Linked DNA regions of Homo sapiens: region 1 is linked to region 2. A link means that fine-mapping ties the variant in region 2 to the expression of a gene that starts in the linked region. Tissue or cell type: tibial nerve. Region 2 holds a variant in brackets; the other region holds the start of a gene. All regions are shown on one strand. Distances are from middle to middle.

Region 1 (8,148 bases), 730 kb after region 2:
TGTTAAGATATTTATCAAGGCAATATGTGCACTGCTGAACATAGACCATTAACAGGAGTTCTGATTTTGCCCTTGTCCTGTTTCCTCAGAAGCATGTGATCTTTGTTCTGCCTTTTGCCCTTTGAAGCATGTGATCTTTGTGACATACTCCCTGTTCATACACCCCCTCCCTTTTTGAAATCCTTAATAAAAACTTGCTGGTTTTGCGGCTCAGGTGGGCATCATGGTCCTACCGACATGTGATGTCACCCCCGGCAGCCCAGCTGTAAAATTCCTCTCTTTGTACTCTTTCTCTTTATTTCTCAGCTGTCTGACACTTATGGAAAATAGAAACAATCTACGTTGAAATATTGGGGGTGAGTTCCCCCAATAGAAAAGAGGTTTAATTGGCTCACGGTTCTGCAGGCTGTACAGGAAGCATGGTGCTGGGCATCTGCTTGGCTCCTGGTGAGGCCTGAGAAAGCCTACAATCATGGTGGAAGGCAAAGGGGAGCTGACATTTTGGCGAGAGTGGGAGCAAGAAAGAGGTGGACAAGGTGTCATACATCTTTAAACAACCAGATCTTGCATGAACTCACTATCACAAGGATAGCACTATCACAAGGGATCCACCCTCATGACCCAAACACCTCCCACCAGACCTCACCTCCAACACTGGGGAATACATTTCAACATGAGATTGGAGGGGAGAAATATCCAAACTATATCAGGGAAATAGTTGGGATTCTGAATTACTCTTACTTTTAACATACTCATCAATTCTAATAATCACATATGTCACTTTCCTATTTAAAAATTCTCATTTCTCAGTGTTCTTGGTCTGTCTCACCAACTATTGCAAGATGCCCTTGAAGTTGGTATATGCTTCATAAATTTTTAAAAAGTCCTTACTTCTCCTTAAATTCTGATGACATCTGTTTAACTAATTTAGGATGTGGGTAATTTGATGAGGAGATGTTTTGTTTCTACCCAAGAGCAGGTTGCAGAACATGCACTCACTACACCTGAGCAGATGTGCAGTATGCATCCCTGAAGGGAGGAACCCAGGAGATCTGGCTGTCCCAGCTAATTGCAGTTTTGTTTCAGTGCCATGGAATTGGTTTTGTTTGTACAGTTGTTTGCACAGGTTCATCAAACTAAGTTCACGCTAGCCTCCCCTTAGGGAATATGGAGTTATAAGACTAGGGTCTGAGGAGCTTCCTGTGAGAACTACTTTCTGTTGCTCCCTTTCTTTGATTGTTGACTTTGTAACTCACTGCTTTTCTCCTGTCTTCTCTAGTGACTAATTTGTCAACAGACTTTGGACACGCTGAACTTGATGAACAGAGCCGGTCTAATACATTTCCAGTTTAAGCAGTGATTAACAACACTGAGAGCAAAGTTTATCTGACCAGAGGAAGCCGAGTACTGATATTTATCTTTAAAATGCACATTTCAATAATAGTACTTCTCAACCTGAGAAAGCAGTCAAAATAAACAAAGCTGGACACTAGTTAAAGCAGTAAGGACAGACTTTATTCAGTGATGCTAGTCCAATAGGGAAAAGAGTGTAATACAAACTAATCCCACACTTCCCTGAAACAAAAGGCTGTGGTATGCAAAAAGGAAAGGCACAAAAGGATCTTAAGTTTTGGGGGGTGGCAGGGGGGCACGGTGGTTTGTTGATTGATGTGATTAGGCCATTTGGGTTTGTTAACTGGCTCTTATCCAGAGGAGAAACAAACTTCTATCTTTATGATAGGAGGCAGTGGTGCTAGCTAAAGCAAGGTACCGGTCTTGTACAGGGACTAGGAGCTAGGGTGAGTTATCTTTCTGAATATTTGCATTTCAAAGAGATGGCTCCCAAGTCTTTGAGGAAACTGTGTTGGGTGGTAGACTTACATCACCAAGGGTAGAGAAACAAGCTTTCTAAAGTGACTGCTCTAAGAAGGGGTTCAGGGACCTATCTGCCTATCATCAAGTTTTGGCTGGAACAAACAGTAAATTCTCCAGGCATTGAGTTTTGATTTCAGGGAAGCATTTTAACGGGATCTGGGGTCAGCCTAGGGACAAGGCCTTAAGCTACTGGAAGCTATGCTAGAGTATAATCAAATCTCTCAGTGCCGAGAAAAGAACTTTTATATGAGGAAGGTAAATCCTTTTAAATTACCAGGCCCAGAGAGACATTAAAATGAGACAGCAATTACATCCTACTCCCCACTTTGTTATGCATTCATCTCTTTAAACTGCTTACTATAGCCACAAGTAGCTAAAAATTAACCTAATAATGGTACACTGGACACTGTAACTCGCACCCTATAGCTTAACGTATAGCCAACCACTAACCAATACTATTTCTACAAACCAGTAATTCTTTACAACTTTGTATCAGTCAACTCCCTGTCCCCTTTTTGCCTTTAAAAACCTGATTGTAACAAAGGTGGACAGGAGTTCACATTTAAGGTTACTTGGGTCTGGGTCTTCTGGGCAGCTGTCCTCACTTTGGCTAAAGTAAATGCTTTAAGTTCTATCTCGTGCCTCAGCGTCTAGGTTGACAGTGTAGTTTGAACAGTCAATACCTGTCGAGAGTTCTGCAGTTTTCAGAACAATGGTTGTTAAAATTCGATTAATCTGGCTTTTAAGATGGTCAAAGTTTTGTAACGTCGGTGTATTGGAACCACACCACAGAAACAGCGGATCATGTAAGTAAAAGTCAAATAGTTGCCACATCAATAAGCTAATATAAATGAAGTAAGCCTGATTACAAGCTGCTTTGGACAGTCTGGGTTTCCAACTTTGTTTGTCGGTTTGTTTAATTTTTGCCTCTCAAGTTTATTATCCAGTATTATGTGTGTTGCCCTCTGTTCCTCCTCCAGCATGTGTGCCTATTTTCACAGCTTTTCTCCTCCACGAGTTTCCAAGGGCCACAACTGGTCCTAGCAAAGCCTTGTGAATGAAATCCAGCAATTGGAGCAGACAACTTGGTTAAGAAAACAAAAACAAAAAACCAAGAAACCCTTCAAGATACGAGGGCTGAGTCTCTGGACTATCTCCTCTTGCTGTAACCGCCCAAGGGGTTCACCTTTCCCGCTTCCTAGACAGAGCTGATTCATCAAGACAGGGGAATTGCAATAGAGAAAGAGTAATTCATGCAGAGCCAGCTGTGTGAGACCGGAGTTCTATTATTACTCAAATCAGTCTCCCTGAGCATTCAGGGAGCAGAGGTTTTTTCTTTTTTTTTTTGATACGTAGTTTCACTCTTGTCGCCCAGGGTGGAGTGCAGTGGTGCGACGTTGGCTCACTGCAACCTCCACCTCCCGGGTTCAAGCGATTCTCCTGCTTCATCCTCCTGAGCAGCTGGGACTACAGGCGCGTTTACCACCATGCCCAGCTAATTTTTGTATTTTTAGTAGAGACGAGGTTTCACCACGTTGGCCAGGCTGGTCTTGAACTCCTGACTGCAAGTGATCCCGCCTCGGCCTCCCAAATCAGTCATAATTTTGCAAAGGCGGTTTCATTCCCATAACGAAGTATTATTCAAAAATATGGCTAAGACCTGCGTCCTTCCGCAACAACTTACTCCCTAAAAAAACCAGAGCAGGGCCAGGCGCGTTGGCTGAGGCCTGTAACCTCAGCACTGTGGGAGGCCCAAACAGTTGGATTATTTGAGCTTGAGAGTTGGAGACCAGCCTGGGCAACATGGCAAAAATCTGTCGCTACAAAACATACAAAAATTAGCCAGGTATGGCGGTGTGTGCCTGTAGTCCCAGCTACGTCGGGGGCTGAGACAAGAGACTCGCTTAAGCCCAGGAGGTTGAGGCGGCAATGAGCTGAAATCGCGCCCCTGCACTGCAGCCTGGGCGACAGAGCCAGACTCTTGTCTCAAAAAACAAAAACCAAAAACCCAGGGCAGCAAGTCTCTCTCAAACCCCTTGGCTTCTTTCCCACTTATTCCCGTTCCAGTTCCTCGTCTGTTTCACCTTTCCTTTCCTCTGACACTTTCTTGGTAGTTCCCTGCGTCCCCAAGTAAGCCTGCGCAGACTGGGAAGTCTGGGAAGTCGGAGAAGGAAGGCGCTACCAAGCCGGCAACGCACGACCTTTGCTTTGCGGCGCGGCCGTAAAGCGCCATTACGCAGAGAGAAAGTTACGAGGTTCGTGGCCGCGGTTTCCCCAGGCAGCTGGCGCTGGAGGCTTCGGCGTCACGTGCTGGTCTGGATTTTTCTCGATGCACTGGGGAAAGCGGTGGACTCTTATCGTGGGAGGGCTCTTGATCTGTGATTTATAGATAGGCACAGCTACTCCCGTTCGGGAACCCAACGGCAGACAGGTCCTAGTGCCCATCAGATACCCGCGGCCGGGACTCGGAGCTGTGGGGTGTGGGGAGGCGGAGGCACCAACTAAGAGCGACCTAGCATCGCAAAGCCGCCCTCGGGGCGCTCATGGCGGGACGCCTCCTGGGAAAGGCTTTAGCCGCGGTGTCTCTCTCTCTGGCCTTGGCCTCTGTGACTATCAGGTCCTCGCGCTGCCGCGGCATCCAGGCGTTCAGGTATTCCACCCTCCTACTACCGGCTCCTTTGCCCTAGACCTTGAGTTGGGGGTGGGAAGCAGCTTTTTTTTCTGGCGTATTCTGTAGGCTTTGCTTTGCCTCTCGGGTTTTTATAGTCATATACAAGTTTTCAAAAAGGCTCTAAAATATTTTATCTGCCTTTTGAGGAAAACGAGTGGCAGGGACCCTTCTTGACTTCTGATTTTGAAATTTGCCATTCTCTGTAAATCATTGTTAGTATCACGAGAGAGTTTAAATAGCAATTGTTTGGGGTGGTGGTGTCCCGTGCCATTTTTTTATGGTTAATACTTAAAACATTATTATTAGTATTAATACATGTACATAGTTAAAACAACTTGAAAATGTAAAATGAAAAGTAAAATCACTATTCCCCCTGTCCCCTTTCCAGGGTGGACAATATATTATATTTACTATCTACCTCCTTTTTTTTAATAATTTGTCTATTGTGGTTAAATTTAGGGATTTATGGTGTCTTACACTGCCTCCTTCTGTTCTTCCCTTCTCCAGTTTTTATTCTTTGAGTTAGTAAACACAGGGTCCTAGGTGCAGCAGCCTTTTCTTATTTTATAGATATTAAAAGTCTTGAATCTACAAAGATGATAATTAGAAAAATCTATTTCCTAAATAATTTACTTACTGTTGGTCAATTGTTCTGTGTCTTTTTGGTCCTGTTTCCTTCTGTTGCTTTTTCTCGAACATGTGATGGGCACTGGTTATCTGTCTATATTTTGATTAATATGAGTAATAGGTCTTGTTTTCAGTACATGGGTCGCTAATTGACTTTTGGCTCTGTACCAGGTTGCCTAGATAGGAAGGTTTCAGTTGAGGGCATGTGAGCAGGTACCAGATGGGTAGACTGGGAACCTGCCTTTTGCTTCAGGCTTTGCAGTAGTGGTGGAGCAACTTCTCTGCTGAGTATAGCTGTTTATTTCCTCCGTGTGAACTGTAAAATTATTAAGCCTAAGTTTCTGCTGTGTACTCTTAACACCAGTATTCACAGTAGGGGTCCTACCCCTTCATTTCTAAAAAACTTTTGATTTTATCTTGGAGACAAACATAACTATTTTGGACTTTTTGCTTGGAGATTGGGGAGGGAGGAGGACTGAGTGATTTCCATGGTTATTGTCGCGCTGCCAGTTTATGATCCTTGGGCCCACTGACTTCAAGCTTGAAACCTCTAGCTCGGCTCAGCTTGTAGGAATAGCATTTCTCCCTAATGCGTTTTTTTTTTTTTTTTTTTTTTTGAGAAGGAGTTTCGCTCTGTCGCCCAGGCTGGAGCGCAGTGGCGCGATCTCGGCTCACTGCAACTTCCGCCTCCTGGGTTCAAGCGATTCTTCTGCCTCAGCCTCTTGAGTAGCTGAGATTACTGGCGCGCGCACGCCCGGCTAATTTTTTTTGTATTTTTAGTAGAGACAGGGTTTCACCATCTTGGTTAGGCTGATCTGGTCTTGAACTCTTGACCTCGTGATCCGCCCGTCTCGGCCTCCCAAAGTGCTGGGATTACAGGCGTGAGCCACCGCGCCCGGCCTTGGTGCATATTCTTATTTTACTTTGTCCTACTCTGGTTTGTAGGTCAATATTCCAACAACTTTTCATTTTCCTGAAGTTGGTTACCATCTGTCATTCACTGGTGGCATTTATTCCTTCTCCTGGTACGGATTTTATTTCCCTTTATCTATCTTTATCTTCTTTTAGTGGGATTTGAGGAAGGAAGGAATACACGTGTGTGCTCTCTGGAAATCTCTAATGCTCTTTTTGTTAGATGCCAGCAGAACAGTGTAAAGTTGCTTGACAGTTATTCTTCGTTTTTGTAACTCTGGGAACCCTACATGAGGCAGGTATATCCAGAACCAGAGACTGTACTGACTTGAAAGAAAAAGCCAACAGTTAACAAATGTGCCAAGTACCTGGTAACTAATGTGGCAGAATAGCTTGAACCGGGGAGGTGGAGGTTGCAGTGAGCTGAGATCATGCCACTGCATTCCATTCTGGGTGACAGAGTGATACAATGTCTCAAGAAAAACAAAAAAAGAATTTTATGGCCAGGCACAGTGGCTAACACCTGTAATCCCAGTGCTTTGGAAGGCTGAGGCAGGAGGATCGTGTGAGGCCAGGAGTTTGAGACCAGTCTAGGCAACTTAGCAAGACCCTTGTCTCTAAAAAAAAAAAACTGGGCCTGGTGGCATGCATGTGTAGTCCTCACTATCAGTAGGATCAGAGTAGGCTCAGAGACTACTAAGTGATCAGTAGGATTGCTTGAGCTCAGGAGTTGAGTTTGAGGCTGTGGTAAGCTATGATCGCATCACTGCATTCCAGCCTGAGTGGCACAGCAAGACCGTGTCCCTAGTGTTCTTTTCCTTTTTTTTTTTTTTTTTTTTGAGATGGAGTCTTGCTCTCGTTGCCAAGGCTGGAGTGCGGTGGCGTGATCTTGGCTCATTGCAACCTCCGCCTCCCAGGTTCTAGTGATTCTCCTGCCCCAGCCTCCCTAGTAGCTAGGATTACAGGCGCCCATCACCATGCCTGGCTAAGTTTTATATTTTTAGTAGAGATGGGGTTTTACCATTTTGGCCAGGCTGGTTTCGAACTCCTGACCTCAGGCAATCTGTCTGCCTTGGCCTCTCAAAGTGCTGGTGAATACAGGTGTGAGCCCCCACGCCTGGCCAAGACCCTGTCTCTTTGAAAAAAAAAAAAAAAAAAAGAATTTTACCAGTCTTTGATAATTTGGAAAAACCCAGAAAGTGACAGTTTTGCACTTAGTTTTTGTGATTACTAGAAGGTTTCCAATGTTCATTTTCTTTTTTAATTGCTCTGTCACCTAGGCTGGAGTGCAGTGGTGTGATCATGACTCACTGCAGTCTCAACCTCCTGGGCTCAGTGATTGTCCCAGCTCAGCATCCTGAGTATCTGGTACTACCGGTGCGCACTACCAGGCCTGGCTAATTAAAAATTTATTTATTGTTTGTAGAGATGGGTCTCCCTATGTTGCCCAGGCTGGTCTCAAACTATTGGGCTCAAGTGATCCTCCTGCCTTGGCCTCCTAAAGTTCTGGGATTGTAGGTGTGAGACACTGCTCCCAGTCATCAAATGTACATTTTCTAGAAAAAAGGTAGTATATTACAAAGATGTAGTGAATGCTTTTACATACCACAACATACAAATCTTCCAGAAGGATCTACTGGTGATGTGTGTAGAATATTGTTTTATTCCTGTGAATGCATAAAACATATGAATGAACCAAAAATGAAATAGAGATAGTAAAACATAGTGTTAAGAGCCTGGAATTCTAAGACAGCTTGCCTAGGTTTGGATCCTGATTTCTACTCTCAATTGTGTGACCTTGGTAAACTTATTTACCTCTCTGGGTCTTAATGTTCTTATTTCCTTTTTTTTTTTTGAGACAGAGTCTCGCACTGTCGCCCCAGCTGGTGTGCAGTGGTGTAATCTTGGCTCTCTGCAACTTGTGCCTCCAGGGTTCAAGCGATTCTCCTGCCTCAGCCTAGTGAGTAGCTAGGATTACAGGCGTCTGCCACCATGCCTAGCTAATTTTTTTGTATTTTTAGTAGAGACGGGGTTTCACTGTGTTGGCCAGGCTGTTCTTGAAC
Region 2 (8,000 bases):
TTCAAATTCTGCACAGTTTTTCAGTTGATAACAAACAGGCCCACAGATCTTCTAGACAAATGGTTTGTAAACTCTCCCTCAAGAAACCTTTGCGGTTCTATAGTGAAGGGAAATGTAGGAAGTAGAGGCCGAATAAATGGAGTTCTTGGTTGCCCATTTTCCCTCTTTAACTAGAGCAGCTCCAGTTTTATTTGATCTGTTTATATTTCTGCGTGTGATTTTTTTGAACAAAGGTAAAGCTATTAAAAAATCTTTGAAAACCATCTGTCCAGACCAAAGTTTCTCATATTGTTTTCAATATTTTTGTTTTAAAAATTCCTCTATGACCAAATAAGCTTGAGAAGAAACTATTTAAAGGAAATTAAATGTATTTTCACTGGAGAACTTCTTAGAACCTTTAATATACTAGACTATATTACTAACCTTCAAGAAGAATAGGCATGTAAATAAAGCATTTCCCAAACTTTCTTGGTCTTGGAGGTCTTTTTTTCAGACATTCTCATAAGACTAATATTCTTTAAAACTTCACTTTATGGATAAGGAAACTGATACCCAAACAACTATGGGATTTGAGTTTCCTATTAGACAGTCCAGGGACTTTTTTATTACACCACACTTTCTCTAAGACTTTTGTGCTGCTTGCTAATTTTACTCCTATAGTAAAATTGTGAGAGATATTTTTTTCTGTCTTTGAATGAAGAATTTTTTTTCTGTCACCATAGAAATTATATTACCTATCTAATAATTGCCCATATTACATATAAAATCTTCATCCCTTTAAGGTTTAGCATTTAGTTCTCTTTATTATAGTGGATCTTTATTGTTCATTTATGTATGAAACCTGTGCTAGGGATTATAGAAGATACAAATTTGAATAAAATATTTGATCTAGGAGCTCTTATCTAAAATGCCATAACCATTTGCTTAATTATAAAATGAAAGAAGGCTATAAAATGATACATAGTAAAAATTTTAACAGCTATGAGAGTTTAAAGGAAAAGGATACAAATTATGACTGCATTGAAAAATAGCACTTTGAAGCTGAGCATGGTGATGCATGCCTTTAGTCCCAGCTACTCAGGAGGCTGAGATGGGAGGACTACTTGAGCCTGGGAGGTCGAGGCTGTAGTGAGGCATGATTGCACCACTGCAGTCCAACCTAGGCAACAGAGTAAGGCCCTACCTCAAAAAAAAAAAAAAAAGTTAAAATTAAAAATAGCACTTCGAACTGTATCCTATAGGCTAGATAATCTCGGCAGAGGGAAGTGAACCTGGATAAAGGCTGTGAAATGGGAAAGCAGGAATGTTTGGGGAACAGTATGACATGGGGTGTATTGTGGGGTTATTTAATGGGAGAGAAAAATAGAAGGATCAGTTGGAATCAGCATGTAGAGAGCCTCTCTTCACAAAGACAAATTTTTACTAAGTATAATAATGCTCCCCTTACCTTTCTATTGCTCTTCCTCATCTCCTAGACATCACTGGGTAGAAGTAACTCCAACAGCTACTGTTTTTTAAGTGTTTGTTTACTTTGTGCCAGACACTATGCTAAGGGGTTGATGTGCATTATCACATTATTCATCATAACAACCTCAATTTAATAGAGATACTTTTATCCTCATTTTAGAGGGCATAAAACTAAGGCTAAGAAAGATTAAATAACTTGCACATAGTCACAGATACGGTAAATGATGGAGACATAATTGGAACTGGGGTGTTTTTGACCCCAGTATATTCCTTAAAGCTTTTGTTGCCTCCAGTAGCTGACAGAATGAGTTAGTCTTTCACTGGTGTGAAATTCATTCTGAGTGACCATCATTCTTACTTAACATTAATTAGCGTGAGTAAAAGTCAGCAAGCCAGCTTACTTGTCTAGGTTTTTCCACTGATTTAATGTTATAATATTTGGACCACAATTTTACTTATCTGCAAAATAGGAATAATAATAATATGTGTCAATCATCCATATTATTAAACTGTTGTAAAAGTAGTTATTTCCACATTAATGAGCTGCTTTGTGGTCCTTAGAAGTTTCTTTGCTATTTCTCCCTTTATTTATAATATGAGGATAATATTGTCTACCATATGAGGTTGTTTGAGGATTAAATAGCACAAAGTGTGTGCCTAGCATATAGTAACTGTTCAATAAACAACAGTTATTAATAGTAACTAACTTCAATGCAGGAATTTTCAAAGATGTGGGATGTTAGTAATACTGTCTTTTCAGTCACTGACAGTACAGTGTAATCTGGACTAACATCATTTATGCAACTTAACTGATAACATGATTTCAGAAATACTTCCATTTACAAGTCTTCTTATAGGTAGAAAACATAATGCTTGAGCCTTGAATATACCACCTTAGATGGGTTTTTAATCCATACTTCAGCAAAATTCACTAATGGAGCAATATTAAAACATTTCTGTGGTATGTGCGAGTTTGTGTGTGTGTAAACAAATATGTATGCATGCTTTTGGTGCTAGATTTAAGTAATTTCTCTTCACCATTCTCTCTTCTTCCATTTATATTGACATTTCTCCTCTATTTGGCCACCTGAATAAAACAGTGGTCTGTCCAGTTTTTTATCCCTTATAGTGTGGAGTTTGACCTAATTTGACATACTTTATTTCAAGCAGATACCCTTTGCTAAAGCTATTAAACTTTAAGATTACATTTTGTTTTAAAGGGAACTTAAAAGAGCATTGATTTAAATTTGTTATCCCTCAGAGCGTCCATTTAAAGACTTAGCATTTCTCGGCCAGGCATAGTGGATCACGCCTGTAATCCCAGCACTTTGGGAGGCCAAGGCAGGCAGATCACTTGATGTCAGGAGTTCAAGACCAGCCTGGCCAACATGGTGAAACCCTGTCTCTACTTAAAATACAAAAATTAGCTGGTGTGGTGGTATGCACCAGTAGTCCCAGCTACTCTGGAGGCTAAGGCATGAGAATCGCTTGAACCTGGGAGGCAGAGGTTGCAGTGAACCGAGGTCCTCCAACCTGGGTGACAGAGTGAGACTCCGTTATATTTAAAAAAAAAAAAAAAAAAAAAAGACTTAGCATTTCACAAATGTAATTTCTGAAGGGCAAGATCTATAAAATTATTTCTGAAAGTAATTTAAATTCCTCAATTCATAGTTATAATCAAGAGAAAGCTTTATTATACCAAAATTAATGTGGTTTTTAAATTATAAACTAACTTAAGAGTAGTTAGTGGTTGGGGAAAAAAGAAGACTTCAAGTTTACTGTTTTCAAATAGAACTCATTTTAACAAGTTTAATCTGATGGTATTTTCTAGTTAGTAGGTTACTCTTCAGTCACTGCTTCTTCCCTTTTAATTTTCTGAAATGAATTGGCCAGCACTGGTCTACATAAATCTTATCCAAGAATACAAATTACCCTACAAATACAATAGGACATAGAGTCTCATTATTTAATGTTACATCCTCCAAAAACTGTGTAACTAGTGTCATTCTGTAAACAGTTACCATGAAAACAAAAGGGAGATCCTTTTGTCAAACTTGATTTTTTATTACCTGTGTACAGACAGATCAGCTTTCCTGTAACAGTGAACAAAAGCCTGATCGAAGCCAGGCTATTCGAGATCGATTGCGAGGAAAAGGATTACCAACAGGTAAGAGTATATTAATAGGAAATGTCTAGGCTTTAACCTTATCCCATTGTTTTCTTTACAAAATTATACTTACCTGGCTTTGAAATCTGGTAATTGAGACTATGATTAGAACGTAAACGTACAAACTGGAGGTAGGGAATGGGCAGGAACACTAGCTACATTAAAAATAATTTCATTAAACTTATACAGAAAACATTATTAATATACTTAGGATTCCCAGAGTAACTTATTTCCCTTTCCAGTATTGGTATATCAATAATAATAATATTTATTTACTTTATCGTGGTATTTCATATTAAAAATACTTTTTAAAGCATGACTAAATAAACACATGTATATGTTTATGAACATAAACACTACTGAAACAAAAGTTTCAGAAAACGTTTTTCTTACTGCACTCTGATATTTTTTATCATATTTCTTTTTTTTTTTAAATGCTAGTAATAACTCACTAAATAGATTTTATCATGGAGTTATCAAATACTACCTTAGGTCATGTGATACTTAGTAAATAAAAACTAATGATGAGTAGTGATTTTGCTATTTGTCAATAGCATTATATAATTCTGTATCCTATGATAAGTATTAAATTTATTTTTTTGAAAGAAATGAATGGAAATTTCAGGCCAGGCGTGGTGGCTCACGCCTGTAATCCCAGTGCTTTGGGAGGCTGAGGTGGGCGGATCACCTGAGGTCAGGAGTTCGAGACCAGCCTGGCCAACATAGTGAAATCCCATCTCTCTAAAAATACAAAAATTAGCCGGGCATGGTGGCAGGCACCTGTAATCCCAGCTACTCGGGAGGCTGAGACAGGAGAATCTTGAACCGGGGAGGCAGAGGTTGCAGTTAGCCGAGATCACACCACTGTGCTCCAGCCTGGGCAACAAAGAGTGAACTTCTGTCTCAAAAAAAAAAAAAAAAAAAAAAAAAGAATGGAAATTTCAAACACTTGAAATAAAAGTAAATATAATTTTATGTGACAATTTATTTTTCATTGCTACTTTCAGGCATGGCTTATTTATAAAATAAACTTTTGATTTTGTTGATTATCTTTGTTCTCTTCTTATCAAGCAGTTTTGAGAATCATGATAATCTAAACATTAACAGAAATACTTTTTTAGATCTTGTCCTAGATCTTGGGGCTAGGTAGAAGTAAATGTACAGATTGCTTAAATATATTCTAACAAAATATATTCTAATTGATATAGCTTAATAAAATAGATTAAAAAGTTAAGATTTTAATTTAATCAGAGCATCAGAGAAACCTGTCTTACTTAAAACCTATGAGCAACTCTAATTGTGAAAAATAAATGTAGACCTTGACTATCTGGACCAAATGTTTTAC[A/G]GAGTCAGAACTCTCATATCTGAGAGGAAGGAATGTGTAAGTTAAAGAAAAGCAGTAAAATTGTTTCTAAGGGAGTGATTTTGTAATGGTACAGTTAAGTATCTGTTTTGGTGCTTCCATTTTAATTATTGTGAATAAAGACTATCTGAAAAGATATTTTAGCTTTCATTTCATTGGTATAGTAATTTATTTCTGGTTAGATCAGAGTTTTTTTCTAATGCATATATGATTAGTTTATATATGGGCCAAAAAAATAACAGTGTGGTAACAATTTTGAAAGTATTTTTCATCCTTTCTTGCAAATATTTCCTTCCTATACTTATGTCCCCATACTGTACTTTTGTCACTTTCTTTTTGTAGGTAAAAATATGTTTATTTTTATACTATTCTAGGATTTGAGATAGTATATAGTGTAAACTTTAGCACTAATAATAGCAGCAATTTGTTAATTGATCAAATTTGCAGTCAGTCTCCTATTTTAGAATCGAATAATAACAAACTTATAGATGAATATCAATAGCAAGCTGAAATAATCTTTTGGGAGACATAGTGAACATTTTAATAAGTAGAACATTAGATTTAAAAGACATTTTTGTTTTTCTTACTTATCTTTTTCTATTTTCTCCCTCTCTTTCTTTGCTCTCTCCACCTCCCTCTTTCCTTTCCTCTCTCCCTCCCTCCTTTCTTATTTCTCTTTGTTATTCTTTCTCTAACCTCTTTCAGCAGTTCCCTACTATCATTTCCTACTACCATTAAGTGGCCATGTTATGTAGTTGAAGTTTATTTGCTTATGTGTTACTTCTTGATTTAGTAACTGTAATGTTGTATTATTAATTTTTGCAGACAGTGTATTTTTCTAAGAATAAAAAATATTCACATATGATTTATTTATGTATATATGACTTCCATCCTATCTCCCTTTCCAGTGTGGGTCTGTAGAAAGAAAAAGGTGAGCCTTGCAATATTTATCAAATTGTAAGGATTATCAAATGCTAACATAATTTAGATTTTATTACTTTCAATGGTTCAGAGGCTTAATGTTTCAGAAATTAATTGTTACATATTATTTTAAAGATAGCAATTAAGAGATTATACTGAGTCTATACCTACTTGATAACATATTTTTAATAGGTTATTTGTCATTTACATATATACGTATATTTGTTTCATAAAGGACATTCATAAAAGTTAAGCTTTCTGGACATATAGATGCTGGGGATAGGGAAAACCTATATTAAGTTCATTAGTTTTTATAGGTGTTCAGTGTATATTTGTTGACTGAACGAGAAAAGGTTTTATGGAAATACTGGATTTTGAAGTGTAATATATTTGTAGTATACTTCTTTAATAGCTCCATAAAGAAATATGTGAGACTATGGTTTATTTATTTAGCCTATGTTAAACATTAAGTTGTATGCAAAAGAAAAATAAAACATCTTGCCTCATATTATTGGACCATTTTCTTATTATAACAATAAAAACATCAGAAATTTTAATCCAGATTTTAATGCCTTTTATTTGTGATTTTGTTTTTATAATACTAAGAAAGATTTAGTATTATTGTCTAATAGTTCCTTAGAATTCTTATTATTAATATGCTGTTCTAATACAGATAAGGAAGCGTTGACTGTCATGACTTTACAAAATTAACAGAGAAATCAAATCCTTAAGTAGATTGTTTGTTGATTTTATCCTCTAATAGTCATATTGGAGAATAAAATCTCCCTTGTATCTAAACTCAAGAGAATTTGTGAGTAATTACAATTAGTCACTCAGGATTAACCAAATTTTGTTTGTGTTTCTATTTTTTTTAGTAGAGTTAAAGGTCCTAATACTGAAATAATAGTCTTATTTGGATCAAGTATAAGGGGAGAGTATTCTTTAGACCTTCTTAACCATCAGTGCTTTGCACAGTAGTATTGCACAAGTGCTCTTTTCATTTACCTTTTACAAATTCATAAAACCTCATTTTAAGGACAGAACCAATATAAATATACTAATTATAGCCATTACCAGGCAGAAGCATTCAGCAGCTAATAGTCAACTGCATAGACTAATTTTAAAAGTTTAAGATTGAAAAAAAAATTATCTCTTGAAGAAGTAATTCTTCTAAGACACCTAGGACACTTGGCAGTGCCAGTTCTTAACTGTCAGTGGTCAATTGCAGCAAAGCAACCTTGTGATACATTATTAATAAAACATTTTCTTCAGTGTGCACCAACCTAAAATCTGTATGTGGTGATAGCATTAGTTTATTAGGCTCCTGACTACAGGAGTAGTCTTTAATAAAGAAAATGTTAAGATGGACAGGGAGATACAGAATTAGATGGAAAGATGTATGCAAATTTGGGGATAATGCCTTATACCTAGTGATTTAATTGTTCAGCTCAAATGTAATAAAGATTTTTATCTATAAGTAAATGACCTTAAAAGGTCTCTTCTTATATCTTACCTCCAAGATCTGTCACAGAAGCTAAAGCCTAAACTAGTGGGCTCTCTGACCCTACTTTGTTACCTAATACTGCCAGTGCTGATTAAATAGCTTCACTGAGCAGAAAGAAATCAAACATTTCCTGCCAAGCTTAAGGTGGAAACTTACACTATTATTCAGATCAACATGGTGGTGCTTTAGAACTTACGCATATTAGTAATATCATGTTTCTTTCTTTTGAAACGCACTTGGACACATTTGTGAGGATACATGGGGACTTGGGGAGCCTCTTTTAATATTGAAATGCCATTTCGAAGTTTACTTCTAAGAGATGTGAATTTTTGAGTCTGGGTGAATTGAAAGGTAAATGATGATATCCAGTGTAGGATAATGTTAATCACATATAACAAAAATAGTTAAAACACAATGTAATTTACAAGGAAGTTTTTTCTAAAATTTAACTAAAATAAATGGGATGTGTTCTATTACAAAGACTTTTTATATTCTTGAAATCTTACCCAAGGAATACAAATATGAAATCTTTTATTTGTAAATAAAGTATATTTATTGTTTGCCATTTAACTTTTAGC

Evidence for each region. PIP is the estimated chance that this variant, and not a neighbour inherited with it, causes the effect.
Region 1: NUDT9 starts here. The variant in region 2 is fine-mapped to the expression of NUDT9 in tibial nerve (GTEx, PIP 0.95).

Annotation. Positions count from the first base shown.
Region 1 is chr4:87,418,488-87,426,635 of GRCh38, forward strand. NUDT9 (nudix hydrolase 9) reads left to right here and starts at 4,086. Exons shown (of 8, transcript NM_024047.5): 1 at 4,086-4,525. The coding sequence starts at 4,419. RefSeq lists enhancers at 3,855-3,904, 3,974-4,908, 5,452-5,955, 5,956-6,457.
Region 2 is chr4:86,690,041-86,698,040 of GRCh38, forward strand. PTPN13 (protein tyrosine phosphatase non-receptor type 13) reads left to right here. Exons shown (of 48, transcript NM_080683.3): 6 at 3,547-3,634. Among named protein-coding and RNA genes, the nearest start is that of PTPN13, 100 kb to the left of the region's middle. The variant A/G (reference allele first, on the strand shown) is at 4,980.